3 separate regions of the Homo sapiens genome follow, and all the other regions are linked to region 3. The links come from fine-mapping of genetic effects on gene expression. A gene starts in region 3. Each other region holds a variant in brackets. All regions are shown on one strand. Distances are between the middles of the regions.

Region 1 (11,401 bases), 130 kb before region 3:
CGGTTCCAGACCCACTTGGCTTGGAATTTTGGCTCACACTTCTTGTCTTATTCCATTTGGACCTGTTAACAAGGATCCAGATTGTCTACTTCATGAATAGCTTATAAAGCACAAAGCACCCGAACCCTAGGAATTGTCCCCAGTATTCCCCCTCACAGGCTTAAGGGGGTCCTTAGAATTCCCGCCATAATAAACCACACAAAGATGATTCCAGGAAAAGAGCATTGCATTTTTGCACTGCCAGTTTGGAAGAAAAACTAAGGATTACCAATAGCTGGATAATTTATAAGTTTGAGAGATTTATATTGCCTCAAAAAGTGACTGTGCTCCAGAAGCGATGGACTCAGTTTTAACAATCCCCAGTAAGGAAAAATTCGATACTTCTATTTTCTATTTTAACTTCGGATGTTTTTGTTGATATTGTTTTAGAGACAGGGTCTCACTCTGTTGCCCAGGCTGGAGTGCAGTAGTGCAATCATAGCTCACTGCAACCACGAACTCCTGGGCTCAAGCAATCCTCCCACCTCAGCCTCCTCATTAGCTGGGACTACAGGCATATCCCACCACACCCAGCTAACTTTTTAAATTTTTTGTAGTGATGGGGTCTTGCTATGTTACCCAGGCTGGTCTCAAACTCCTAGCCTCATGTGATTCTCCCACCTTCACCTCCCAAAGGGCTGGGATTACAGATGTGAGCCACCAGACCTGGCCCCAAATTGGACATTTCTATTACAGCCCCATTATAGAGGACAATTGATTATTTTAAGTTCAGTCACCCTAAACCAACTTTTTTTGGCTGCAATTAAAGTATCCAAAAGAATGGATTAAATATATTTCCTAAAAACTTGACTGTATAAAGTGAAAGGGAAAATGAAGCAGAATCCCAAACAAGAATTATTAATCTATGAGATTCTATTAGTCAAATAATAAGCCCTTCAGGAAACTATTGTTACTTTCTATTGGTGTGGTCTACCTGGTTGATTTTTATAAGATTGAGATCAGGGTCATCTGAAAAGCAAAAATCTTGGTTGCTAACTATTGTCTTTACTGGCTATCTCCACCCCATATTTTTTATTATAATAATCATCAATTATTTTCTTCATAGCTTTTTCGATAATTTGTAATTATTTTCTTTATCATTTTCTCTGTGCTTTGTAAAGTTGATTAGAGCAAAGACTAGATTTTCAGCTTCAAATACAGAGCCAAGTAATAATAAGTGCTGTGTTAATGTTAGCTAAATAAATTAACCTAGCCCAATTTCTTAATGTTACATTTACAGGTGAGGAAATGAGCTTCAGTGGTAGTATTTGATGTACTGGAGATCATGCTTTTGTCCAATGGCAAATTCCAGAAATGAACAATCTCCTGACTCCTAGAAGTTATTTTCCCTTCTACAACAATTTGCCTCTTTTAATAAGTTTAAAAGATGGTTCTCAGCCCTGAGGGCACATTAGAATCATCTGGGGAGCTTTATAAAATTCCACTGACAAGGCCACACTCTTCATCGTTCTCTGGCAGATTCAAAAGTGCACTAAAGTTGGCACTCATTGTATATGTGTGTGCATGTGTGTTCACATGAAGGTGTGCAAAAGAAGTTTTATTTAGGAGCAAATGAAGAAGCAAAACTGTGTTTTGAAAATGCTCATCAGGCAGCTGTGTAGGATGGTTTTGGACAGAGGCTGAATAACAGCAAAATGACCAGCTACTTGTACAGTTCACTAAACAAGAGATAAGAAAGAAATGAACTCAGATGATAGCAGTAGCAGTATCATGGAGGGAGGAGGAAGGACAGATGAGATGCCTATAGAAATAGCTCTACAAGATTTGGAAACTGATTGGATGTGAATGCTACAGGGGAGAAAAACTCCAGGGCCTCAACAATTGTGCCTAGCCTGATTCCAGGAGTAATTTGTTACCCACATGTGGTAAATTAACACTTTGAGTGACAGTGTACCAATTTGCAAATTACTTCTTTCAGGGCATTAATGACTGAAGAGTATAATCACCATGGCATTATTTTTATTGGCATTAGCATTAATAAATATTTCATGAGCAACCAAAAAATTACAGTGCCTATACTTAGAAGAATGTTCCAAAATATGAAATCCAGAACTTAGGTTATCACCAATGACAAAAATTCTCTAAATATTTATAAATAAAATAACAATTCATTGAGTAGAAGATTAATTGAGATGAGTTGCAATTATGGTTAATGTTAAGTAGTTTTGTTTATGTAATTATAAATTGGAGGGCTTGGAGAATTGAGCAGCATGAATTCTAGCAATAATTTAACTATAACATTGGAGGAGTTAATAAACTCTCTAGATCTCAGTTGCCTTATCTGTAAATTGGAGAAAATAATGTTTTATCCACCTGACAGCAACAGTCTGAACTAGATTTTTTCTCCTAGCTGTAGATCTTCAAGTTTGAAAAATATGGAAGCTGATAATTAGTCTGGAAAGGACACTGGACAGGGATTCTAATGCCTTGTGATCCAGACTGTGTTCCAAATGATGTGTACTAAGTTCTGAAGGTTTATGTTCTCCCAAAATCCATATGCTAAAATATTAACTCCCATGTTGATAGTATTAGGAGGTAGAACCTTTGATTAAGTGTTGAAGGCAGAGCCCTTATGTATGAGATTAGTACTCTTATAAAACAGGAGCAAGTGAGCTCATTTGCCCCTCCCACCATGTGAGGACGTCGCAAGAAAGTGCTGTCTGCTGTCTGTGAACCAGGAAATAGCCCTCACTAGACACCCAATCTACCAGCACCTTGACTTTGGACTTCTGTCTCCAGAACTGTGAGAAATAAATTTCTGTTGTTTATAAGCTAATTTGTGGTATTTTATTATAGCAGCCCAAACAAAGACAATCTGAGAATTGTACTAATAATTTCTAATTTTCTTTCTAGCTCTAAATTTTAAAATTCAATATCATGGAATATGATCCTTTTGTGAAGATACCAAAGGAAACTAGCATACTGAATTTCTAGAAAATTGAGAAGACAGTGGCCTAGATCTAAAAAGAAAAGAGGAGGAGTCACAGAATTGTTCTTGAGCCTTTCTTCATCCACTGGTTGTATAAATGCTCTTGAAGTCTTGTGGTGGCATTGCGAGACTTCTCCACAATATTTAAAAATTTATTTTGATATGAGTGATTTTATTGCATTTTCAAATGTAGGAGGCCAGGCCTTTGTTTTATAGAAAAATTTAAGAGAATTTACAAGAGAATTTTTCTGTTGTATACAAATGTCAGGTTTGCAATAAAGAAGGCACTTTATTTTGTGGCATTTTTGCAGATCCCTCTTCATCATGCCTGTAGAAGCATGTGAGTAAAACAAATTAATGATTTAGTAGGATTGAGTTGATGAAATGCAGCAATAAAGACTGCCAGGTAAAGGAATAATTCAGTCTTTTATTTTTAGCCTCTCAAAAGCTATAACACCAGGGGGAACTAGTCACATCGCCAGCAAGTTCATAGAAAATGCCCCCAGACCATTGGAAATGCTCTGCCAAATTTATCAAGGAATTATGAATGAACTAGACAAATAAATCAAGCATCAAACATCAATAAGGCAGGTGTGAGATGCTGGTGAGCACCATTTCCCAGAAACTTGTCATTTACACAAGCAAAAGAGAGGTTTATATAAAATGCAAATACAAAATGATAAAAATCTTAACATGAGGACCACTGCTCCAATAAGTTTACTTTAAGAGAAAAATAAAAAATAGAATTCTTAATGGCCTGAAACTGAACTCCAGTAAATATGGCAAAGCTATTTAACATAAACAGTAGAAAGAACTGAAGTTAATCAGTTTGTAGGAAATAAATAATTCAACAAATATTTATTTGAGCACATACTATCTGCCTTGGTGGGGCTGGAAACAGAAAACTCAATGTAGCAAATCAGTCTGTTAAAAGGGAATATGCAATGCTCTTCCCTGTTAATTTCTTCTAAAAAGAAGGAAGCGAGTGAGGGTCTTAGGTTTTGTTTCACTCAGAGGAGGAAATAGAATAGTCAGGGTGAGCTTCATTGAAAAAGTGAAACGTGAGCACAGATTCAAGAAATCTGAGGTCATTAACCAAGTCATAAGGGGGAAGGCACATAACAGGCAAAAGGCCAAGGTACTGCAATGAAAGTGTGAATGGCTTGTTGAGGAAGAGCAGAGTCTACTATAGTTAGGAAAGCAGGAATAAGTGAGGAAGTGCAGTCAACCAATAAGGTCAGAGAGCAGAGTGGATGTGAGTAGAACAGATAATTCAGTCGGGACTGGAAGCCTTCTTGGAAAGAACTTGGGCTTCTACCTGAGGTTTTAGGCATAGGAACCATATTATTGTCACAAAGGAATTAGAACTATGTTGAGAAGGGACTGAAGGTGCAGCAAACAACCTATTAGCAGGCTGTGGAAATATAGGAGAGCAGCATAACTCTCATGAAGATGTGCTCTGAGCTCACTGCTAGTAATAGGAAGGGGTTTTGTGGTGTGATATCCACACTTGCTTCCCCATGCTAACTGATATCCAAGTGCATACAACACATGGTGGATTTTGGAAGGGGTGAAGAGAATTGCCCACATCTGAAGATTCTGTTCCTTTCTTTGTAAATATCTCTTTCCAATAATTTATCCTCTTTCTTAGTTCAGCTGCCTCCTTTCTTCTCCAAATCCAAAGCCATATTGCTGGACCCTTCCTCTAGACTGAGCTCTAATTCCCCACCTCCAAATACCTCCTAGTTTCCACTTGATCATGTGTCCATTTCCCCAAGTCAATGTTTCCAAAATCTATGATCCTACTTGATCCTACCTAAGACTCTTCTAAAAACTATTTTCATTGATAAACAAAATACTTCAAAGGTCCACAGTGTATATAACCTAGCACCTAAAGAGGAAGGATCATTTAGTGTGCAAATATTATTAGAAAAATAAAAGACAAAAGTCAATAATTTTGATTGTATGAAAATTAAATTATGTTTATCAAAAATGTAATGACTTCTAAGATAGACAAACCAGAAAGAGTAAATAAAAGTCTTTAAAAATGAGATTCCGTGTTTCCATAATCATTTTTGAAAAGTTCTTTTCAGCAATGCCATCCACTGTCAGTGGGCTATTTAGGTTGGATGTCAAATGGGTACAACCTTTTTGAAGAGCAATCTGGTAATACCTGCTAAGTGCCTTTTTAAGTCCAATTGGCAGTATAACTAAAGTTTTATTCATTTTCTTAAGAAAGGACAAATTCAGAATGTGTTTATGAAAGTGTTTTCAAATAATTCGTTACAAAAACAGAGAATGAGAAATTACCTAAGTGTTCGACAATAGATCCAGTAGTTGATTTTTACACAACCATTAAACATATGATTCTGTAAAAAAAAAAAAAAAAAAA[T/AT]TGTGTCCCAGCTACTCGGGAGGCTGAGGCGGGAGAATCACTTGAACCCAGAAAGCGAAGTTTGCAGTGAGCCAAGATCGCGCCACTCCACTCCAGCTTCGGCGACAGAGCGAGACTCCATTTCAAAAAAAAAAAAAGAATTTTGTGGGTACATAGTTGGTGTATATATTTATGGGTTATATAAGATATTTTGATATAGACATAAACATATAATTCTTGAACAATACTGGCCATAGGAAAATACATACAATTGAATGTAAAATTTTATAAAATGTAAAATTACAAATATAGCATATACTAGTTTCCTATTGTTGCTGTGACACAAAATACCACAAACTTAGTTGCTTAAAACAGCACTACATATTATCTTACAGTTCTGGGAGTCAGAAGTCTAGAATGGGTTTCCTTGGGCTGAAAAGGTGTTAGCAAATCAGCCTTCCTTTCTAGAAGCTATAAAGAAGTTCAGAAGCTCTCATGTTTTATTGCCTTTTCCAGCTTCTAGGGCTTTGATATGGATAGGCTTTGTGTCCCCACTTAAATCTCATCTTGAATCGTAATCCCTAGGTGTTGAGGGAGATACCTGGTGGGAGGTGTTTGGATCATAGGAGTGGTTTCCCCCATGCTGTTCCTGTGATAGTAAGAGAGTTCTCACAAGATCTGATGATTTTGTAAGCGTCTGCTATCTTCCCCGCTTGCATTTCTCTTTCCTGCCACTATGTGAAGAAGGTCCTTGCTTCCTCTTCACCTTCTACCATGATTGTAAGTTTCCTGAGGCTTCCCCAGCCATGTGGAACGGTGAGTCAATTAAATCTTTTTCCTTTATAAATTACCCAGTCTTGGGAATTTCTTCATAGCAGTGTGAGAACAGACTAATACAGGCTGCCTGCATTCTTTGGGTAATGGCCCCCTTCCATCTTCAAAGGCACTAATGGATAGTCTTTACCGCATTTTATTACTCTGATATGTATGGACTCTTCTCTCACTTCCAACATAAAGGGCTTTAGGATTACACTGGGCAGACCCAGATAATCCATGATAATCACTTTATTTCAAGATCAGTGTTTAGCAAATTTAGTGCCACCCGCATCCTTAATTCCCCCTTGACATGTAATATGTAAATTGGCAATATATAGTCTAATATATTCACAGGTTTGAGGGATTAGGACATGGATATCTTTGGGGCCCTTTATTCTGTATAGCACAGTATGTTTTAAAATTTTATAAGCTATAATACTTTTATACATATGAAATGATTTGAAGGAAATGTAATAAAATATCAATAACCAATCCCAGTGGCTGGATAACAAGTAGTTTTTGGTTTTTTTCCTCTATACTCTTTTTTTATTCTTTCTTTTATTTCTGTTTTTTTTTTTTTTGTTGTTGTTGTTTTTTGATACAGAGTCTTGCTCTGTCACCCAAGCTGGAGTGCAGTAGCACAATTATGGCTCACTGCAGCTTCAATCTCCCAGGCTTAAGCCATCCTCCCACCTCAACCTCCCAAGTAGGTGAGATTACATATGCACGCCACTATGCCCAGCTAATTTTTTTATTTTTATTTTTCATAGAGATGAGAAGGTCTCACCATGTTGCCAGGGCTGGTCACTAACTCGTTGGCTCAAGCAATCCTCCCACCTCGGCTTCTCAAAATGTTGGGATTGCAGGCATTAGTCACCATGCCCAGCCTACACTTCATATCCTCCAAATTCAATGCAATGAGTATTTTAATTTATAAAAAAGTGGAAAATAAACTTTCTTAATGACTTTATCTTTGCTATTACATTAATCCAAATTCCTTTTTATAATTGTCAAGGCAAATTTTTTCACTTCATAAATCAGAATTTCACTGATTCTTTCCCACCTTTTTCATCTTCCTCTCATCTTGTTCTTCTACTATTTTACTTTTACAAATGCCAGCCGTCCTTCAAAGTCTAGAGTCTTAACCAAAAAGCTTCCTTAGATTATCACAGTTCTTACTCATCTAAAGTTCTCCAACACAGTCTGTACCATGAAATTCAACCAATTGCTCACCACTTCACTTCGGAAACTCGTATCTGGTATCACTAATGAAAGGTTGCTTCTCAGAAGCCAGCAGCACCATGCTCCGTATTGCTGTCGTATTTATTCATTGTATCTTGAGGCATGTTAACAATATTATATGTACTCCTAAACATTTGTTGAAGTATGCTTCTAAGATTTTGAAGTAATATTTCTTTGATTTCAAATCATTTTATTCATTTCTGAGATGTTTTATTCTTTTTTTTTCTTATCTTCTCAATGAAAACTGTTTTAGATATGAAAAGAAAACCCATTGTCATCACCTCCTTGGCCACTAAATACTTAAAGTCACCCAATATGTGTGCTGTTAATCCTGTAATTTCATTTTTTCCTTCTGTACTCATCCCTTTCTCTAGTCTGTAAATTAATTAAGCCACCTACAATTAAAATAAAATTCCCACATCTCTGCATTTCCTTCCCTCTATGCACTGTCTTGTCCCATTGACAGCCAAGCCTCTTAAAAGTATATTTTCTCTATTGCAGCCTCCTTCACTTTCTCCCATTTCTGCCTTTGGTCTCCACCAGCAACACTGACGCTGATCTGACAGGTTACCAACCCTGCTGATAGCCAAATCAAGTGGAATAACTTTAATCTTCACTATCCTTAACTGCTGAGCAGTACTCAACAATAGTAATTGTTATCTTCTGGACACTCTTTCTTGACTTCAAAAAATGTTTTGTCAACTAGACTATAGGCTTATTCCCACCTAGTGTACCCTCCCTGCTTGCCACTAGAATGATCTTTCTAAAACATAGTTCACCATGGTACTTTCTACAATACTGAGAAGGTCCTGTATCTTTAAGGTCCAATATAGTAGCAACTAGAAACGTGTGACCACTGAGGACATACTACGTGGCTAGTGCAACAAAGAAACTGAAATGTTAACTGTATGTCAACTGTATTTAATTTCAATTAATGCTAATTTAGATGGCCACATGTAGCTAGTGGCTACAGTATTAGACAAGCTAGTTCTAAAATATATGATACTTTTTTATGGCTGCCCATTGCCAAAAAGTTCTCAAACTTTAACATGCCTAAGGATTATGTGAATAACTGGTTTAAAATGTCTATTTCAGGGTTTTAGCCTATCTATCTATCTATGCATCTATGTATCTATCTATATAATCTATCATCTTTCTATCATCTATGATCCATCTATTTACTTTAAAAGCCAACAGCCTATTGAACTAATAGTCATTTTTTTCCCCAGATACTGACGGTGAAAGGGATAGATGAGGTGATCATTTTTCTTCTTTAGAGATGGACAGAGTCAACATAAAATTGTAATAGCCTTGACCTAGGCTCAGATGACTGGTTGATACATGATATAACCAGCTCCAATCATCCTCAAATTTAAAAGTTTATTGACATTATGTTTTAAACACTGTTCTAAGCACTATCCTCTTCCCAAGTTTCAAGGTATTAAAACCCAGATCTAGAAATGAAACAACTTCCCTACTATTAATTTCAAGGGCAGAAGTCAACATGACACAAATTAGAAACATAATCAACTTTATTGCATTAGAAAAATTAATTTAAATCAGGTGGGTAGGTCAGATCTCTGTGGTTAGGGTCCAGGAGTATAAATTCTCAATCTCAGGTGAATCTAATGGAAACTGTGGCCGAAAATTTAAAATACAAATTCCCTACCATGTTCTAGGAAAACCTTTCATGACTTTCCAGCTTCATCTTATTTATTACCACCACATTTTTCCTACCATCCTTTATCTTATTTTGCCAAGTCATAGTAAACTACTTCATATATATATATATATACACACACACACACATATATATAGATATGCATAGAGCAGCATAGGTAGATCTAACTCTGTTTTTTTTTGTTTTGTTTTGTTTTGAGACAGAGCCTTTCTCTGTCACCCAGACTGGAGTGCAGAGGTGCGATCTCAGCTCACTGCAATCTCTGCCTCCCGGGTTCAAGCAATTCTCTTGCCTCAGTCTCCACAGTAACTGGGATTAAAAGCATGCATCATCACCCCTGGCTAATTTTTGTATTTTCATTAGAGACAGGGTTTCACCATGTTGGCCAGGCTGGTCTAGAACTCCTGACCTCCAGTGATCTGCCTGCCTAGGCCTCCCAAAGTGTTGGATTACAGGTGTGAGCCACTGCACTCAGCCAATTAGATCTAAATTATTGTTCTGAGTAGAAAATATAGGTGATTCAATAAGCAATATCATTTACAAAATTTAAAACTATATGCAAAAATTCAATAAGATATTTGATAGAATGTATCCAAAGATGATTGAGTGAGAAAGAATGGGAGTATGGTGTGTGGACAAAAGAAAATAAATGAATAGATAAAACAAGAGAGGGACTTTGTTTAAACCAATTATAATATACTATACCTGGAGAGAGAAAGAAAGAGAACTCTCACTAGTATTAGAATATGTTAATAAGAGTAACTGTGAATCGCCCTCTGAGGTTTTTAAATATAAACCTACAACACTTTGTGTGCATTACTGAATGAAGGCACTAGGTGTTGAAAGCTGAGACATTAGCAACATACCCTTTTTACTCACAAATATACTTGTGTTTCACTAACGGGGCTGAGAGAGCAGTTAATTTTGTCAGTTTATGGCTTGTTCAATGCCTATTTTCCAGTTGTCTTAGTCGTCCACTACATGCTTGTTTTTAAGCATTGTTTCTCTTAGAATCAAAATATCTTTTTGAAAAGAAAAGAAAAACTTGTTAAGTACTTCATTTGCTTGGTATATCCCTAATTTATTCATTCAACAAAAGCATATATTTATCTATCTTCTAGATATACTTGCCAGGAACTATGCTAAGTTCTGTAATGAATGTAAAATATTTCTGATGATTATGAAGTATGAAGTAGATGGCCTCCGAAAGTCTGATTATTTACCCTCAAAGCTTATCATGGTTACTATTAAATTTAATCCTTATGTCTAGACCAATCAAATTTATGTTAGCACATGCAGGTTGTTTTAATTATATAATTCCAGCCCTTCATTCCAGAAAAAAAAACAACACACAATCAAAGACAGATTAAACTGTAGCCTTGAATTGCAGAAAGTGATAGTGGAAAGATCTTATATGTAAGGTATTTGATCTATATTAAATTACTCTTCAATATATTTGTCAACAGTTTACTTTCCTTGGTGTTCATCTGTATATATATTTCTCACCAGAATGACCGGCATAGGGAGAATATTTAAAAAGTGTTATCTAGTCCAAAAAACAAAAAATTTAACATTCCGTGTTGTTGTTGACCGACTAAATCTGGTTCTAATACTGAGTGGAATTTCCAAACATGACCCTGGGGCAAGCAGAAAGCAAACGTCAACATATTTCCCAAGGTATTAAAACTATCAGAAGGAAGTACTAGTATTTCCTTAAACATACACAACACACAATGAATCAAGATATGATGTCATGCTTTATCGAAATATTTATTTTCATTACAATTCACACAGTTCTTCAAGGTCAAAGTGACACTAGTCTTACTAGAAAATATGGGATTTGAGTTACATAAATCATTCTCTACTGTTTAGAAAACAAATCATGAATTTTCATGAATTTGGGACACAACTCTAGGAACTGGATGGTATCAAAATTCAAAGATAAGTGGCAATATTTCTTATTTCTTTTTTAAAGCTTTCATTGGAAAAAAAAAAAGTTAACTTTTGTGGTTATGTTGAAAAAAAAATGCAAAGACCAGTACAGCCTATCCTTTTTTCTTTTAGAAGTTGTGGAGGCCTTTTTTTCAGCAGTGTGATTCCCTGACATCCCCCTACCCTGCCATTCTACTAAATTTCCTCTCACATCTTCTATACAGCCCCCTCCCACATACACAGGACAGAAGTGGAACAAGTGGAGAAGAAAATGATGAGAGTAATGCCGAGGGAAGACAGCAGTGTGTTTAACATCACAAGATCAGAGGGAGCCCAGAAGCAGAACCTAGAAAAATCCTTTCACAGCATG
Region 2 (7,324 bases), 100 kb before region 3:
ATGTCAGAGACTTGGATCCATATTTGATATTCTATGGGAAATTCCCCACAGTTACAGATGTTAAAAATCCTGCCCAATGGTCCAGTTATAAATTTATAGTATTTCCTTTTCTATATCCTTGGAATTATTTCTCTCTGATTTCCTTTTTACATTAAAGGAAACATATTCCCTTCAGGTCCAGATAAACTAGTGATAAAACCTTGGCTTGTTGTACAGCTTGATGTAGTAATAAAAATTTAGACTGTGTAACCCGTCTCTTTCAAGAAACTGTTAGTGCTTCCCTGAGATTATCCCATTAATACTTACAGCAACTCTGTTCCTACTTTATGTTCACTCTGGGAACTGCTCTTAGAGTCAGTGTCCAGGAACTCAATTCTTGGATGTTCATTTTAATATCATATCCATTAAACCACACTGTAATTTCAGTGTTCCTTGTCAATTCAGGCCATTATCAAGATTTTTGATAGGTGGCTAATAAACAGCGTTCTCTAGTTGAAGTCGCCACAATAAATTAAAATTGTATGGAGCCCTGTGCTTTTCACACCAATTTGGTGTTTTTTTGCTTTAAATTTAGTAGTCTCATGGCTAACAGTGGAAGCATCTCTAGGACTGACTCTGACAACATAACGACCCCATCCAGTGCTATCAGTGAATATAAAGACCTTGGAAATGTTATAGACATGGCTCCTCAGCAATATTACATATTATATGTTTTATATATAATCTAAGGGTAGGTTAACTCTTTAGCTGCGTATTTTTTAAAGTGACAAAAAAGGAGAAAAATAGAAGAAACCTTTCAAATTAAATATTTAGAACTATTATAAAAGAGAAAATGTTACTATTAAATGATGAAAAACATTGCTGGAAATGTACCCACATCTGATGTATGGTTGGGAAGATACAAAGGCTTTTTAAAATAATGTTTTGATAAGCAATATGACTTACAAAAGATTCATTTTAACTAGTCTTACAGACAAATAAACCATATCAGATTAATTTGGACCCATTTTTAATTATTTGTAAAAAATAAGTAAGGGCAGTCTAATTGTTGTAAATATTTATAGAGCAAAACAATGCAAACTACATATAACAATCAAATTTCTAGCAAAAATGTGTGTAAGTAGGTTTATTTTGAAAGGAAAAGTCCTACTCCCAGTGTCATAACCAATTAAATTCTCCGGGTAATGACCCCATTTGCATAGCGAGCGGAACCCACAAGTGGGAATTTTAATGGGTACACCACCTGAGTACAGTAATTGAGAGTGACACAACTTGAACTAGTTTTGTGCTTACCCCACTGAAAATTCTACTCATATTATTTTTAATGTCAAGCTACAAGTCAAATTTCAAGATGATGGATTTGTTCTTTTTTAAGCACTGAGTTTGAATAAAAGAAATGCTTTAATTCTGTTATGCATTGCATATCTTTGCTTTAACTAATCTGTACTTCTGATTCTCACCATTGCTTCATTTTCTTCAGTGATTGGAATTTAATTTTATTCATTAATTTGTGAATAATTAGATAAAAAATAATGTCCTCAGCTGCTAAATTGCTTTTGGATTGCGATTTAATGTACTTTTACCAGAATATGTATTATAGTTAGGCTGGCATAACAGTTTACTAAAATGTAATTGTGTAAATATGCCCAATTATTCTTTTTGATGATCTAACAAAATCTAATATAATATGTATTCATGAGTATTTTACTCCTCCTTCACCTCAGCACCAATAAAACACAGTTTCTGCAGAGCTGATCAGAGACACCTTGTCATCTAAAGATGTTACTTTTAAAAGATATTCTCCTTATCTCTCAGGCACTATTCATGTCCTTGAAAGAATTGTGCATTCTGATTGAGGGAGCATATGACGTCCACATGAAATTATATAATAAAGGTGATTTCAAGACTCTAAAAGTCAAACACACACGATTAACTAGGTTTTGAGGTGACATTTTAAAACTTCTTTTGTTTCACTCTAAGATTGCTTGCGATCTAACTGTTTGTAGGTGTTTGACACCACTCTGCCACATCTGTAATTGGCATAGCATCCAGCAGACAGGCTCTGTACATCTTTACACTGCAACCTACCAAGTTAAGAAATGTATTGGTTCAATATAAAACAGCAGGCTGTTTTTAGACATAGTTACTAGTGCACAAGCTTTAATATGGCTTGGCTTCATCCTATAATGAGATCTTTTGGTTCCCTGCTCAACAGGCTTTTATTCCTTTGCAAAAGGCTATGAACTATGTCAAGTGGATCAGCTGCTTTTGTACACCCTCTTTCTTGGCTTTGGAGCATAATTCCTTTGCTTCTACCCCTTTATGCATCAGACAGAACTTAAGAACCTTTTCCATTTTTCAAGCTAAACTTAGAATTTGTTTGAATTTGCTTTTCACCATTTTCCTAATAATTACATTCTCAACTAAACCTCACACAAAGACCTGCCTGGAAGTGAACACCTAATTGCAGAGCTATACTTTGTCTTTAACACATATATCTATACCCCATGTTGGTAATGTGTCAAAGGATGGTTATCTGAAATGATTTCTTCATGGTCACCTCACAACTAAATTAATGCTTCCTTTTCAGTGAGCACTAAATGGAATGTGGTAAGGAATTGAGGGCATAAGCAGACAAACAAACAAACAATGGAAGCAGAACTACTAGCCACAGTTCAGTCAGAAGGCAGGAAGCTACTTAACTTGACATCTAGCTGCTTAAGTGTTATAGCTGAGGCTCTAGTGGAAAGTGTCATGCTATTATGACAGCTTGGTGAAGAATAGGTGGTGCAGATTCTGTTTGCATAGAGACATTGCTTTCCAGGTGGGGCTCCGCTGCGGCTTTATTTCATTTCCAGATTGTCTATTGTCTTCATAAAAATTTGGTCATAAATATGATATTTTGAGTTACAGTGTTTTAAAAGGGGCAGTCATTGTCCACTGAGAATTTTGCAATGTATGTAGAAGATTTAGTCACCAATGACAGTTTTTGCAACACCCACCCTCCATGTTAGGGCTGCATTACAATAGTATCCCCTCTCCACAACTTCTTCTATTTTAAACAAACTCTAAAAGCAATCTTAAATAAGGAAGTAAATACTGGCAGGTTCACCGTTGAAACTGTTTTCTCATGGGAGGTGCCAAACTTATTCCCTGGGTTGAAACTTCTTGAGGGTTATGTGACTTTCTTGAGGTGTCTAGTATCAATCCAAGCACAAAGAAAACACTCACTGCAATTTATTGTATAAGCATACGAAGATGAAGGGTTGAAAGGATTCTCTTTTAATACCCAATGCTTGATTATAAAAACTATAAATAGTAAGTGTGGAACAAACCCTATTAATATATTAACCATTGTTTAAAACAAAAATGATATGTTCTGTTGTATTAGTGCAAAAGAAAACAAAATGGATATTATAGTATTTGATGACATTTTCTGTTGCCAGTCAGATTAGATGCAACAATCCTACAGGCCTACAAATCACAAGTAATTGGAAGGGGCATAAAGGTCTTAAATAATTTGAAAAATAATCTTATTAACAAATAACCTGATTCATTAGGCAGTTAGGTAAATCTAAGCATTTAACTAGCATTCAAGAAGGCAAGATACTTATTTATGTTAATAAGTCTCGAGTCTTATTTATGTTGGGCAGTGATGTTTGACGTTTATAACATTAGAATCTAGGGCACTGAAAGAGTTTGTATGGATAAAGAATGGAAAGTTATTACATAAGGTTGCCTTGGTTACTCCTTGAACTGCTCAGATAACATTGACTATCCAGGTGAGGAAAATGGATACAGTTGATACACTGTAAAAATGAAAAAATAATTTTCTAAATAAAAAGCCTTCTCCTAAATAAAGTCATACTGTATTGTTTTAGTTAGATGCTAACTGCGAGCATTTACAAAAATTTCGCCACTCTATGCCTTAGATGAAAATTCTTCTGATCATTTATTTTCGAGTGAAATTCATTAAATCTAAGACTCAATTTCATATATGTTTGATCATTTTTACCTTGGTTTTTAATCTCAGCATATATTGTAAAATTACCTTAGTTTTTCTAAGTGGAAATATAGCTCCAAAGTAAATAAATGAAATTAACTTACTAAAACGATGTAAAAAAAAAAAACTTGTATTTTGACATATTATAGATTTTTAAAAGAACACTGTGTTTTGAAATCACATGTCAATGATCATAAACTGATCGATATCTTTCATAGTTCATTTACGGACATGAGTCATGTGATTTACATAAGAAGACTAGGAAATCTTCAGACAGGGATGAAACATGATAAAGATAACCTTCAGATTTTAACTTATGGTTGAATTCTTTCAAACATTAGTCAATATGTCAATTAGATATAAACATACGGTAAAGCAAAATAAAGAAGTCATTTTTAAAAATTTTCAAAATAGTGTATTCAGGATAATACAGGTCCAGTTTTAAAATATTTTAAAAGCCTTTCCACATTTAAAAGGACACCGCCTGTAACTATAAATTCTAGCACTTAGTCATGATAGCCATATACTTCAACAAAACATTTTACATTAAGAAATCATAAGATATATTGAAACTATTTTCACATTTGCCTACTTTTCCTTTTTCTGTTTTCCTTTTAATTATACAAATGCTTTATGGAATAACTGTCTGGAGTAGACAAGAGGAAAAGTACTATGAACATAAATACAAAAATAAAATTCTGGTA[T/C]CCATTAACATTCTCTGTTATGGAGAAACATTATTGCAAATGTGCTAATATTTTCATCACAAATTGTGCCAGTACATGTTTAAATATTAGACAAACCACTTGGTTGAAAAACTTTGCATATAAAAAGTCAAATATTCTAACAATTCCAGGTCATTAGGAGGTTTCATGTGTCCATAAACAGATGATATTCTCACATCCTAATATATGAGCATAAGTTAATTTTGGGTATATGTAAATATTTAGATTGTGGTTACTGTAAAATAGTATAAAGATTTCCTTATATTTTATGTAACAAATGAATTAAGTTCTTTAGAGGAGAAAAATGAAGACAGCTGTTTACCAGAATTATATTCAGATCCCAAAATTTAAAGGTTTTGTATGTGTGTATGTATGTGTAAATAGCAATAAAAGAAAGATTCAAAAGTTTGCTAAGTTTTTTCTTTTTAAGCCCTTTAAGTAATGATATAACTAGAAACTACGTTTCATCTCAAAGGAAAAACCACAGGTGATATATTCTCATGCTTCAGGTTAAAAACCTCTCTTAAAAGGCTAGGTTTGCGAAAGCCTTCCTAAAATTATGCTTCTGTTGTTACTATCAATTTGATATTCAGCCAGAAAAATTAAAAATAATTATTAATCCCAAAGCATACTTTCAAAATTTCTACTAAGAATTATATTAAATCAAACCAAACTACAATTTTAGAGAGATCAAACTGAGTAGGAGAGAGCATGGTATGAAAATTTACTCTCCCTTTCATCTAAGCCACACACTATAGGTCTCAATAACTATACAATTACTCTTGTAATTGACTGATTTCTTTACACTTAAGGATCATTATAACCTGCCATATTAGTTTAATTTAACATAAAATCGTAATACAGAAATTTGGTCACAGTAGGGGATATCTAGATTTCTTCTGCATTGAAAAGAATGGTTTCCATTTATCTGTGTTTACAAAAAATAGCACTGCTTAAGAAACAAACTAAACAACTAAAATGTTCTCATCCCAAAAAGACCTAAAGCTCTCAAAATAAAAGAAAGCCTTTCAATAACTCAGAACACTGGGATTTTAATATTAAAAATTTCCTAATTTAAATGAAATGTGTCAGAGTACTCAATCTTCTTTATTAAATAGAGCTATTTTACTAAGGCATTATGTTTTCATCAAAAAAGTATGATAACATTTAAATTATGTGTAAGAAAATGCATATTTTTAGTTAATTTAAACTTTATAGCTTTTTCAAAAAGCTGTATTCCTACAACTAATAAAAAAGTATGCTGAAGGCACTGTTCTTTTAACTGGTTAAAGGCACACACAGTTTAGGGTGTCCACCTAAATCTTTGTCAAAAATCTAAATAATTCATTTAAATAGCAGGTGAATCACTCATTCTAAGAGAGTCCTCAAATGCCACATTCTCCCTGAAACCTTACTGAATATTCTGGTAGCAATTCTCTGCATATTCCAACAGCATTTTGAGTTTATTTCTCTTATAATCCTCACTTCAGTATGCCTTGTGGTATGGTTCATTCTTTACAGATCTCCTTAGTCTGCTAAATCTCATGTTCCTGTGGACAGGAGTGGAATTGTATCTGTCCCCACAGTCTGAGGAAGAGAGTCCACACAGTCGGCATTCAGAGTCTGTTGAACAAGTGGAGAAGGTAAGGGAGAGAGATCAACACTGGTTCCCAACTATTATGTGGGTTTGTTTCCTAAAGTTTCTTTTAAAATAAAGACTGGTTTGTTTATTTATTTATTTATTTATTTATTTATTTATTTATTTATTTAGAGATGGAGTCTCGCTCTGTTGCCCAGGCTGGAGTGCAGGTTGGAGTTCAGTGGCACAATCTCGGCTCACTGCAACTTCCGCCTCTCGGGTTCAAGCAATTCTCCTGCCTCAGCCTCCTGAGTAGCTGGGACTACAGGCGCACACCGCCAAGCCCAGCTAACTTTTTGTATTTTAGTAGAGATGGGGTTTCACCATGTTGCCCTGGCTGGTCTCGAACTCCTGAGCTCAGGCAATCTGCCCACCTTGGCCTCCCAAAATGCCAGGGTTACAGGTGTAAGCCACCGTGCCTGGCCAAGACTGCTTCCTTTCAATCATGAATAGATACATATCAAAATAAACTGCCTCGTTTAAATACACACTGAAAAATAATATATTTGGAGCAAAGTGCTCCTGAGAACGGTTAAAAGAAACAGAAATATCGGTAAAAAGGAGAAGGCATTTAACATTTGGGAAGGGGGGTGTCAAAATGTCCCTAAGTTATTGTAACATATTAAGAAATTTATAAAACTAGTTAAAGTAGTTAAAATTTCACATATTAAACCATGTAGATTTGGTTAAAGTAAAAAGGCTTTCAGAGATTACTTACAATAATGAGTTAACAGTGCAAATTCCATGTTGTTTCATGAGAATCTTACAATGTGCTTTTCTTCCCCCCAAAAGGAAATTTTTAAACACTCTCCAGTTTTAACACAAACAAAAGATAAATATTTATGAAGGAAAACAAATTCCACAGCATTCCATACAGATTTCCAAGCAGTCTGATGATTCACAACAGGCATCCATGATGCCACAGTCCATATCACAAGGGCAGTTACAATCATCCCCCAT
Region 3 (11,110 bases):
AAAAATCAACTTTATATTTAAATTAAACTGATCCCTATTTAAAGAAAGTTTTGGATCAAAGTTAAACTAATAATAATAAAAATGTATAACTATGTTGCTAAAGCTAAGGCAATTTTCAGGTAAAATATAACCCAAGAGTTTCTACACTGATAACGTGTGTTGTACCCAACAAATGTACTTCAGGCCACTCTAGATTTTCGGGTTCTTAAGTTCAGATCACATGACACCATCCAGCATCCTAATGCACAGGTACATTAAGTACCACTGCACATTCTCCCAGATGATTTTAGAAATGCAAACTATTAAAGTTGGATATTGTAGATATTAGCTATTTCCAGGTCAAATTATTTTCCTTGGGTGTTTGATGTTGATTTTTGACATAAGCCTGGTTTAACAATTGTGATTAGCAGCTCAAGTGTGAGCATAAACAGCCCATCAATGAGTCGATATGACTACTAAGGGCATGCCTAATGACAGGAAAATGATTGTGCTGACAATACAAGGTGGAGAACACGGGCTGCTTCTCAGAAAACATATGTTTATCATTCTAGTTCTCTGATTTTCTGCAGTTAATCATTTTTATTTTCTGTTTAGAAAGCTGAGTCACTCATTTAGAGGCAAAAAATAATGATAAATGTAATTCAGTTTAACAGCCCTGGGTGCCAGAACATTTTAATTTAACCAAGATGTTTTCTGCTTTTACCTATTGCAGCTTGAAAGTTAACTCCTTCTCCAATTTTTGCTGCCTTAAAAAAAATCCCTAAGATTCACTACATTAGTACAAGTGGGAAATAAAGCTATCAGTTTATGCCTAAAATCAGGGGTATATGCTAGGTTTTTGAGCACTGGAAAAATTACTTAGTTCTGATATATCAGTGACAGAATTCTTTAGCTCAAAACCATCCTTAGAGTAAAATGCATTAGAAGTTTAAGAACCTTCCTCTCTGTCACCAATGGAAACCTAAAGTATATTGCCTTCAAGAGAAGAAAGGTTCAACTCGTTTAGAAGCTTGTTATGGAAGTTTCCCAGACACAAGAGTATTTTATAGGCTGTGTGTGTTTACACTTTGGAAGAACACAAAGAAGCTAATTCATTCTTGGAAAGTGTTTCTTATAAACCTTGTTTATTTATTTCAAAACAAACCAGTTATTGAAAACAAGCATAAGCCATTCCAAAGCTACTGGTCACAGAAACCTGAATTATCAACCGGGTGGTAGAGGAGCCAACAAGAAACAGAAAGATGAAATGGAGTAAGTGCACGCTTGTTCAGAGAGCTGCGGCAGTCCTGGATCTGCTGAAGAGACCTAGAGGAGAAGCGCTTCAGAACCTACACATTGAGTCTTAGGCCCAAACATGCATATGCTTAAGAAAGAAGCAATCCTGTCATCCTGTTTCTTCGCAACCAAAGGAAGGGGGAGTGGAGGGACCAACGGTTCCCGCCCTCTTACCCGGTTGTTGATCTAGGGCAAGGATCCTGAAGAACTTGCCTGAGTAACGCGAACTGTGCAAAAGTTCTCAACTACGAGTGGGAGCCCCTCCTCACAGCACTCCCCCCACCCCTATCTGTGCACTTGTGAGCAAACTGAAAAATGCAACAATGACAAAGAAGCTTGCCACTTGCAAGCGCGCACTCACCCTGGGCTGTGGAGCCCAGCTGGCCGCCGCCCGCCTCGGCCACGCGCTGCGGCCCCACGGGCCCGGGAGCGAGGGCTTCGCCCGCGCCGGACATGGGCCGCTCCGCCGAGCCCGCGCCGCGCCGCTGCCGCCTAGCTCGCCGCCCGGCAGGGCGCACGGAGGAAGGGCTGTGAGGTGCTGGGTGCAGGGAACTGACTGCTTCTGGCGGAAAAATATACAAAATTAAAAAAAAAAATGTTTTTAGAGAAGAGCACACCACCCCTGCGGGACGTTCCCTCCCCCTCCACTTCCCTCCCTCAAACTCCACCCCGGGGAAGTTTTGATTTGAAACTTGCGAAGAAAACTGTTACAGCGCAAGTTGACAGCGGCGGGGTCCCAGGGGTCCGAGGTGGACCCAGCGGGGAGGGGCTGGAAAGAGAGATCGGGTTTGGGAGAACCCCGGGGATGGGGATCAAACCCCTCCTCTTCCCCGCCCGGAGACCACTACCTACCTCCGCATCCCCCCGTAGTCGCTCCAAGCCCCTTCCTCCTCCTCCTCCTCCTCTTCCGCCCCGGAAAGTTAGCGAGCCTCCGGCAGCGGCCGCATTTTCGCCCCGGTGGCCTGACGACGGCGGCGGCCGCCCCTGCGCGTCCTCCCGCCTCCCTCCGGCTCAGCCCAGACGCCGCAGTGGCGGCAACTGCGGCAGCGGTGGCGGCTCTGACTCCGCGCACTCCGCCCCCTCTTTCCAGCCAGCTCACTCCAGCCGGCTCCCCTGCGAGGGGGCCTTCCCCCTCTCTGCCTCTCTTTCCCCTCTTCCACTCCTACAATCCTGAAACACTTCTCCCTCTGTTGCTCTTTTTCATCACATCCGGATCGGGAAGGCCTCGAACTCTTGGCTAGCGGCCCCGATGCTGGGAGCGGCGCGACCCGGGCTCGGCCGCGCGATCCCTCGCGCCCTGCGCTGTCTGGGTCAGGAGGCCAGAGCCGGCCTGGGCTGGCTCGGGCTCCCCACCCGGGCGCTGCGCCCTCCCGGGGCTGGGAAAGGGGAGTGAATGGGCAGGTCCCTGGCTGCCCAGACGTTCCCCCCACCCCGCCCAAAAAGTCACCTCATCCCTTCTCCCTACTCCTGCCCCCAGACCGACGGAGGCTTTGGGAATATCCTGACGAAAACCTTTAGGGTGGACAAGGAAAAACGAAAACACTGTTACAGTATCGAACTTTCCTGGTGGGATAGAGAACGTGTGCGTTTGAAACCTTGACCCCTCGGTTGAACGTTTACTCACTTCATCTCTGGCTCCTAAATTACTCTTTGGTCAAACAGTATTCCTGATGTAAAACCAGTTGCAGTTTGCGCGAATCTGCTGGAGGCATCCAGGCAAACAAGGTTGGCACCCTTGCGGATGCCGTGGTACTGGCCCCAGCCTGGCCTATGGCAAGCTAAATGCCTCACTGGATCAGTGGTATCTGAGGGGAGATAAACTTGTGGTCGGAAGTAAAAAGCTGATCAACTTTCCGTTTATAAATGAGACATTCTGATTGTAGCTTAATCTGATGAGCCGAGGATAGCAAGTGTAAAGTAATTTACAGATATATAGTACTTTAGTGGTATACTCAGATAACTTTTGCTCTTTTATTTCATTGTGAATGAAATGCAGAATTCATTTGTAGAAAGCTAGAACGAACTCATTCTTCGATTCTTTTGGACAAGCGAGGAATCACAGTAACGTTATCAAAACTGAAGAAAATGTGCATTGGATTCACTGTCTTTCTATGTGCATCATTAATAATATCCCAGAAATTTCATTTTTTCAAAAAGCTCATTGGAATTTATTCCAATTGATTACAAAGATTTACTTGTTACCTATGAAGAGACAGTGCATTCTAACTTGATTTCAATGATGGTAAAAAAGCCAGCCTTCGGCCGGGAGCGGTGGCTCACGCCTGTAATCCCAGCACTTTGGGAGGCCGAGGCAGGTGGATCACCTGAGGTCAAGAGTTCGAGACCAGCCTGGCCAACATGGTGAAACCCAATCTCTACTAAAAATACAAATATTAGCTGAGCATTGTGGCGGGCGCCAGTAATTCTAGCTACTGGGAGGCTGAAGCAGGAGAATCGCTTGAACACAGGAGGCAAAGGTTGCAGTGAGAAGAAATTGTGCCATTGCACTCCAGCCTGGGCGACAAGAGCAAGACTCCATTTAAAAAAAAAAAAAAAAAAAAAAAAACAGCCTTCAAAGTTGCTGATGACAGTCATTCAGACCATTCTCCCCAAAAAGACAAATGACATTTTGCCCCATTACACATAACTAACATTTTTTTTTCACTTGGAGATTTCAGAAATGGTATGAAATCAAGTGCATTACCTCTCTTGAAAACTTATCTAGGAGCCTGGACTGTTTGGAATTTGTCTGATGGAAGCAGATCAGTTCTGAAGATGACTTCATCACCACTAGAGAACAAACATTTAGGACGTCTCAGAGTTCACTGCAGCATCATCTGCACTCAAAGGAGTTGTTTACCTGCTCTGGAAAATTCTGTTTTATCCCTGTATCATTCCTTGCCCTATTTTTAAAATTCTCTCACAAAGATGTTAAAGTCCAATAATATAAAGAAGTTACAGCTTTCTTCTAGAAAGTCATAATCAATGATAAGTATTTGTTCATTTAATTTCACACAGTCCTTAATATTGCACACGTGGTGGGTGATTCCATAGATATTCCTTAAATTAAATTTTAAAATCTTTAATGGAGAAGACATAAAATTAAAATAACATTAGGAGCAAATGAGAAGCTGTAGGGTAGCATCACCAAGGTTGTCAAATACTGTACCTCATTCAGCTGTGTGACTTTGGACAGTTAGTCACCCACTCTATACCTTGGTTGCCTCATAATATGAGAATGAAATTCTTCATAGAGTTTCTTTTTGAGCACTAAGTAAGGTAGTTTTCCTATAAAATTTGGAAGACTCTCAAGGGAAAAGGTGTTCAAAAGTATCAACTATTATTACTATTATACACGGAAGCATCTTGATGGGTAAAGCTGAGCATGGCATAATGACTGTATCAAAAGGGTCATATCAAAATACCAGTTTGTCATGCCATGCACCTGACGCAAATGATCTCAATGAATTCTTCCATCGGCCCTATAAGTAAATTGCCAGGATTGTACCTTCAGGATTAGAACTCAGGTCTGTCTCTCTTCCAGGCTATCCTGCATCCCTAGGTAACTCAGGTCTTCCTTCTGGAGGACCTAGAAGTGGTCTTAATGCCATTAACCTGGTGTCTGATATGCCAGAAGTTAAGTGTGGGCTCCTGAGTGTCCCTCACGCCTCCCATTTCCCACATCCCTGGCTGCACTTGCTTGTTCTGATTGCTTCATTTGTTTACTGACAAGCACTCCAGTACGTTCATCTCTCATTCTTTCACTCAGTGTCACGAACTGAAAGTTTGTGTTTCCCCAAAATTCATATGCTAAAATCTTAGCCCCTAATGTCATGGTGTTAGTAAGTGGGGCCTTTGGGAGGTAGTTAGGTCATAAGAGTGGAGCCCTCATGAATGGAATTAATGTCCTTACAAAAAGACACAAGAGGCCAGGTGTGGTGGCTCACACTGAGGCAGGGAGATCTTTTGAGGCCAGCACTCTAGGACCAGCCTGGGCAACATAGAAAGACCCCATCTCTACAAAATTGTTTTTAAAAAATTAGCAGGGCATAGTGGCATACTCCTGTAGCCAGCCACTCTAGAGGCTGAAGCGGGAGGATCACTTAATCCCAAGAGTTGGAGGTTACTGTGAGCTATGTGGGCCACTGCACTCCAGCTTCGGCAACAGAGCAAGACCCTGTCTCTTAAAAAAAAAAAAAAAAAAAAAAAGACATACAAGTGTTTCCCAAGGCTCCACCTTTTAATACCATCACCTTGGTGATTAAGATTCAACATATGAATGTTGGGGGACTACAAACATTCAGACTATAGCAGGGGGAGACATATTTTCTAAATTACTGTTTATAAAAGCCACTCTGGTATTATGCGTAAAATTGTTTGGAGGACTGAGAGTGGATCTAGGGAGTCCAATTTGGAGGCCAGGGCTGATGGCTGGCAGAAGGAATGGAGCCAAGTAGATAGGGATAAAGGATGAGGAAGCTAGAGGAATCGAGAGCAACTACCAGCTTTCTGCATCCAGGTTGATGGTGGTGGTATGACCTACAGAGATGAAAACATTCAGGAGAGGCCAGTTTTGGGGAAAGCTGCTGAGCTAATCATGCAAATGATGCAGCATGTGTGAGACAGCTAATTGGAACTGTCCTGCATAGGCTGCTGGACATGGGACTGGATTATAAGCATATACATGGTACTTTGCTGACTAGCAGGTTATAAGAATGTCCAAGGCAAGTGTGCAGAGTAAAAGCAGAAGCCCTGAGACGCAGCTGTGCCTTGGAACTCAATCCACGTGTATCCTTACTGGCCTCTCTCCTTTTCTCCACATCCTTCCCAGTGACATAATACCATTATCAGCTTGGCTTGGAGAACCACTACTGTTTAAGTACTACTACTGTCAGTGTCCCACTTGCTACCCCAGATCCCCCTGGGTTGTCTTTATTAAGCTAGATTTTGCCATGTCTTAAGCTATCTTAATCTGCGTAGGTGGAAATTCTTTAGGGGTATCAGCCTGCCGGTGGAACTCAATGTCCTAGCCCCGGATCAAAGCCCCTTGCCTTTGAAATTCTTGTGTGCCTTACAACCATTCCTGCCTAGTGATGTGTACACTAATGATGATATAATAATATGTGAACACATTGTGAAAGAGGTCTGACATGAGCTAAGCAAATAAAATAAAGAACTAATTAAAAGAGTTTATAAAGCATCCTTATGGACTACTTAATCTTCATCATTCATTCATTAAACATTCATCAAACATTTATTGTGCATCTACTATATGCTAGGCCACATATTAGGCTCTGGAGATAAAGAAATTTGATTTGATGTCTTGAAAAGCAGCTAAATTAGTTTTCACTTGGGCAGAGGCTTATTTGCCTAGTAAAGTCAAAATTAATCCCCATACACAGATATCTAAACCAGAGGTCTACAACTGGGGTGTGTAATTGTAAGGGCATTCCAAGGGATGCATAAGACAATCTACTGAAATGTGGGCAGAAAATATCAGAGTGAGCATTTATATATGTTTTTATGTTATAATTTTTAATTTCTACTTTTGAGTATGTTTTTATACAGTGTATTGCACATTCTTACAAAAGTACTTGGGTATGATTTATAAGTAAACATACATTAAAGGTTCACATTCAAATACTTTGTTTCTTTGTTTAGAAAAAAAACTTTTTAAATGCTTTGAATCCTTTAAGGAGTCATTCCCAGATTATATCAAGGATAGTTTTTCTGGAAAATATATTTACCTAATTTATGTTAGAAGCAGCACTTTGGCAATCCCCAAACCCAATGACCTAGAAACCAGGAAATAACAGCAACATACTAAATACCTAAAATAACCTTCATGATGTTCAGAAACTGCCAACACAAAAGACATAATCCTTCTCAAATCCTACTTGTTCTTTTGTGAATACACACCTCTAATCAAACTTTATTTTCTACTGTTTCAGCTCACATTGTTTTAGAAGAAGAAAACTTAGGGCGCAGGAAGATTGAGGAGAAGGGATTAGCTAAGGGAGCTATTAGGTCAGAAAAACTGACAGCAGGAGAGATGACAGCTGACAGACAAGGAAGATACAGGAAAATAAACATGTTGTAACAACGCCTTTGTGAATTCAGCTTCGTGAAATAGTCAATGTTCCTAATGAGCCTGAGTCATTAAGGAAAGAGTCAGTTAGTTATGTGAGTGCTATATTCTGTTTTTAGGGGGTCGGGTCAATCTTTTTACATTCCAGGAAAAACTCTTTCAAACATGTTCAAAAATTCCTTTAAAAAAAGGTTGCTACTTGAAAGAGTAAATTCCACAGAATGACAATTTTACAGCTGCAAGGGAAATTAGCAATCACAATTCCAGGCCAAGCTGTATGGATCGCATTCCTCCACCTCCTAGTACTGTGTCAGGTGCAATCAGGTGCAGGGAAGGTCAGGTGCGCAGGTTTCTGGAACCCTGCTCTTAGAGTAGAGCACTTTCTTCCTTTTCTCCATAATGTATTAGTCCTTCTCTTAAATTTTAACTGAAACAACTGGTTCTTCCGCTTTTTAAAAGTTTAAAAATCACCAGTCTTACCCAACTCCTTCATTTAACATATAGAAAAATACAAAGACATAAAGTTTACTTACTAGGTTCAACAAACATATGTTGAACATTTACTACATGTCAAACCACATGCCAGACACTAGAGTTTCAAGTATAGAAGAAATACTGTTTTAGTCTTCTGGGAGTTCATAGTCTATAAGGCCAGAGGCAGAAGAAGGCAGCAATGTAGCAGCAGAACAGTCACAAACACTTACCATACTGCAGGAGCAAAAAGGAAGTAGCACTTACCTAACTCAGCTCAGGCGTAGGTGGGGAGAGTCAGGGTACATTTCAGAAAGACGATAATACCAAACTGAGTATTGTCGATGAGTAAATTTGCCTGTCAAAGAAGTTAGGGAATTCCAGATGGAAATAACACTTACAAAGACAAAGAAATGTGAAAGCCCCAGAGAAGTTAAATGACTTGGCAAAGGTCAGTTCGTGGATTAATTACAGAGCCAGTCTTAGGAGCCTAAATTTCTTGTCATCCAGGCTTCTTGCTCCAGCTATCTGGATAATGCACGTAAATGAATCCATCATTTCTAAGTGATGGCGAAGTAAGGTCATGCCTGTTGTTATATTTTGAAGTTCCAAAGATTTTCTGTTGTGAATGGGTAACCAAAGAACCAGGCATAAAATCTCTTGTTGCTGAATTAGTCCTCTCCAAGGTCTCAGTTAGTGTCCCTTTCAGTTGGCTGACTTCTCTGGCCTGGGGCACTGGCCTTCAGGGTCTCTCCTTGCTGTCACTGTACTTTCCTTCTTGTGTTTTAAAGGAAGGGAGGGAGATGTTAAGGCATACAGTGGTACTTGTCAGATAAAAGCAACATGACTGAAGACAGAAATGAAAATGGCCATAACATATGCAGTAGACAATAAGTAGACATTTGCTTCATACTTAGAAACTGAACCTAGATATACCAGGAGAATGAAAATTGTGGAAAATTTTAAATACAAGGAGCTCCTGAAAATAATGACTGATCTGCTGAAACTGCAGTTGAAAATAATGTTAGCATGATGATCATGACAAAAATGTTTAAAATGGTGTAGAAGATGAGGATTCTTTTGTTACTATAACCCCTAAACTCATTTAAATTCTCAGATAAAGAAAGAAAATATCAACTGTGACATTTGAATCAGTGCCCGTATTTCTCCAAATTTTGTATTAAGAAATACATGCTAAATCTAAAAAGCAGGATTGCAACAAAACTACAGTCATGAGCAATATAACAATGTTTCAATCAACAATGGATGGCATATATGACAGTGGTCCCATAAGATTGTAACAGAGCTGCCTTATGCAGGCATACCGTTTTTTATCTTTTACGCCATATTTTTACTCTACCTTTTTTTTTTGTTTAGATATACAGATACTTACCATTGTGTTACAATAGCCCACAGTTCTCAGTAGAGTAGCATGTTGTACAGGTTTCTTTGTTTCTCTTTTTTTTTTTTTTTTTTTTTTTTTGATGGAGTCTTGCTCAGTCCCCCAGGTTGGAGTGCAGTGGCATGATCTCGGCTCACTGCAACCTCTGCCTCCCAGATTCAAGCAACTCCCTGCCTCAGCCTCCCAAGTAGCTAAGATTACAGATGTCTGCCACCACGCCCAGCTAATTTTTGTATTTTTAGTAGAGACGGGGTTTCACCACCTTGGCCAGGCTGGTCTTGAACCCTTGACCTCGTGATCCACCTGCCTCAGCCTCCCAAAGTGCTGGGATTACAGGCGTGAGCCACCATGCCTGGCCTGTTGTACAGGTTTATAGCCCAGGAACAGTAGACTATACCATACCACCTAAGGGTGTAGTAGGCTATATCATCTAGGTTTGTTGAAGTACACTCTATGATGCTCACACAACAATGAAATCAACCAGTGACACATGTCTCAGGACATACCCCCATCAATTAAGCTATGCATGACTGTATATTGTTCACCCAAGCATGGGACCTATAATGAACTCCGGGAAAAAGTGAAGGTTTCCTGAATATCCTTCCACCTCCCATCCTTCTTCTCTCTCCTACTTCGAACAGCCCATCTGTCACCCCGGCACTTGCAGCTCTATATTCTTTTCTTGTTACCATAGGTTCTCAACTTTAGACAGTGTGCAAATCTGGGCCAAGCATTATACGGAATAAATTTGATTTTACATGTTAAATACAAGTATATGAATAACTCATGATCTTCTTAATTCTACCCCCAACAGTTACGTCTCTATCTTCACAGACCCTCAAAAATGAACTTAGGACCACAAGGAGACATAGACAGGTTATTTCTTGCCACACTATTTGTATAGCAGGGAGCTGAAGTCAACCTAGGCAGCCATCCTTTGGAAATCAGAAAGTTGATTATGTAGACGAAGAGCATGGGGTATTGTGTAGCTATTAGAAGGAACAGATGATAAACACATGTAGAAACAAAATAGATCTAAAAATGATACTTAGTGAAACATGTAAGAAGCAAAATGTAATTTTTGTTCAGAACCAATTAATAACTAAAAATACGTGCAGGGAAAACAGAGCACATTTTATAAGAACACACACAAACAAGGACGTACATAAACATCTGAGAATGCTAACCTATGAGGAGACAAAGAAGAGAATTGAGACTGGGAATTAGGGAGAACAAATAAATACATGCAGACAAACATAGGCATAAAAAGGGAGGCCTTGCACAGACCAGTGAAGGTAATGTACCATATACCAAGGTGCTGATTAACTCAACTCTGCTCTAGGGCTTCAAAATAATGACTATGACCATCATTATGACAACTTTTACTACTACTGCTACCACCATCACTGCCAAAAATAATCATCATCATAATAAAAGTGTTACATGAATTTGTATTGATAGATTATCAGGCAATGTAATAAAATTATCAGAAGAAATGAAGATGTTGTAGGGATATATACTGGGGGAGGAGTACCTTACACATATCCCTAAAATACCTAAAATTAGGTAGAAGGGACTACTTAGTTTGGCTGTGTTTAAGATCAGCAGCACTGGAAAATTTTGGTTGAAACAGCAAATCTATACAAAGGTGAGGTTTTTGTTTGTTTGTTTGTTTGTTTTACCTAAGCTCTCCCAGGTTGAGCATCCCTAATCCAAAAATTTGAAATCCAAAATGCTCCAAAATCCAAAGAACCGACATGACACCACAGTGGAAAATTTCACACCTGAGCTCATGTGACAGGTCACATATATTATTAAAATTATTATATAAAATTCTCTTCAGGCTACATGTATGAGGTCTTTATAAAACATAA

Alleles and levels. Alleles are on the strand shown, and positions count from the first base shown. SD is a standard deviation of normalised expression in the study named. Not every link is listed here.
For the expression in monocytes of the gene that starts at base 2,670 in region 3, allele T in region 1 goes with a lower level than allele AT (large effect, 1.0 SD a copy in BLUEPRINT).

The links. PIP is the estimated chance that this variant, and not a neighbour inherited with it, causes the effect. A credible set is the group of variants that fine-mapping cannot tell apart.
Region 1: its variant is the best candidate, but not a certain one, in a credible set for the expression of MDFIC in monocytes (BLUEPRINT, PIP 0.86).
Region 2: its variant is the best candidate, but not a certain one, in a credible set for the expression of MDFIC in skeletal muscle (GTEx, PIP 0.88).

What each region holds. Positions count from the first base shown.
Region 1 is chr7:115,047,552-115,058,952 of GRCh38, reverse strand. No RefSeq gene overlaps it. Among named protein-coding and RNA genes, the nearest start is that of LINC01393, 26 kb to the left of the region's middle. The variant T/AT (reference allele first, on the strand shown) is at 5,382.
Region 2 is chr7:115,015,816-115,023,139 of GRCh38, reverse strand. MDFIC (MyoD family inhibitor domain containing) reads right to left here. Exons shown (of 5, transcript NM_001166345.3): 5 at 3,223-7,324. The coding sequence ends at 7,205. Among named protein-coding and RNA genes, the nearest start is that of LINC01393, 59 kb to the left of the region's middle. The variant T/C (reference allele first, on the strand shown) is at 4,708.
Region 3 is chr7:114,913,654-114,924,763 of GRCh38, reverse strand. MDFIC (MyoD family inhibitor domain containing) reads right to left here and starts at 2,670. Exons shown (of 5, transcript NM_001166345.3): 1 at 2,128-2,670; 2 at 1,637-1,837. The coding sequence starts at 1,730. RefSeq lists silencers at 1,651-1,790, 2,021-2,200, 2,211-2,260, 2,591-2,730 and an enhancer at 8,372-8,461.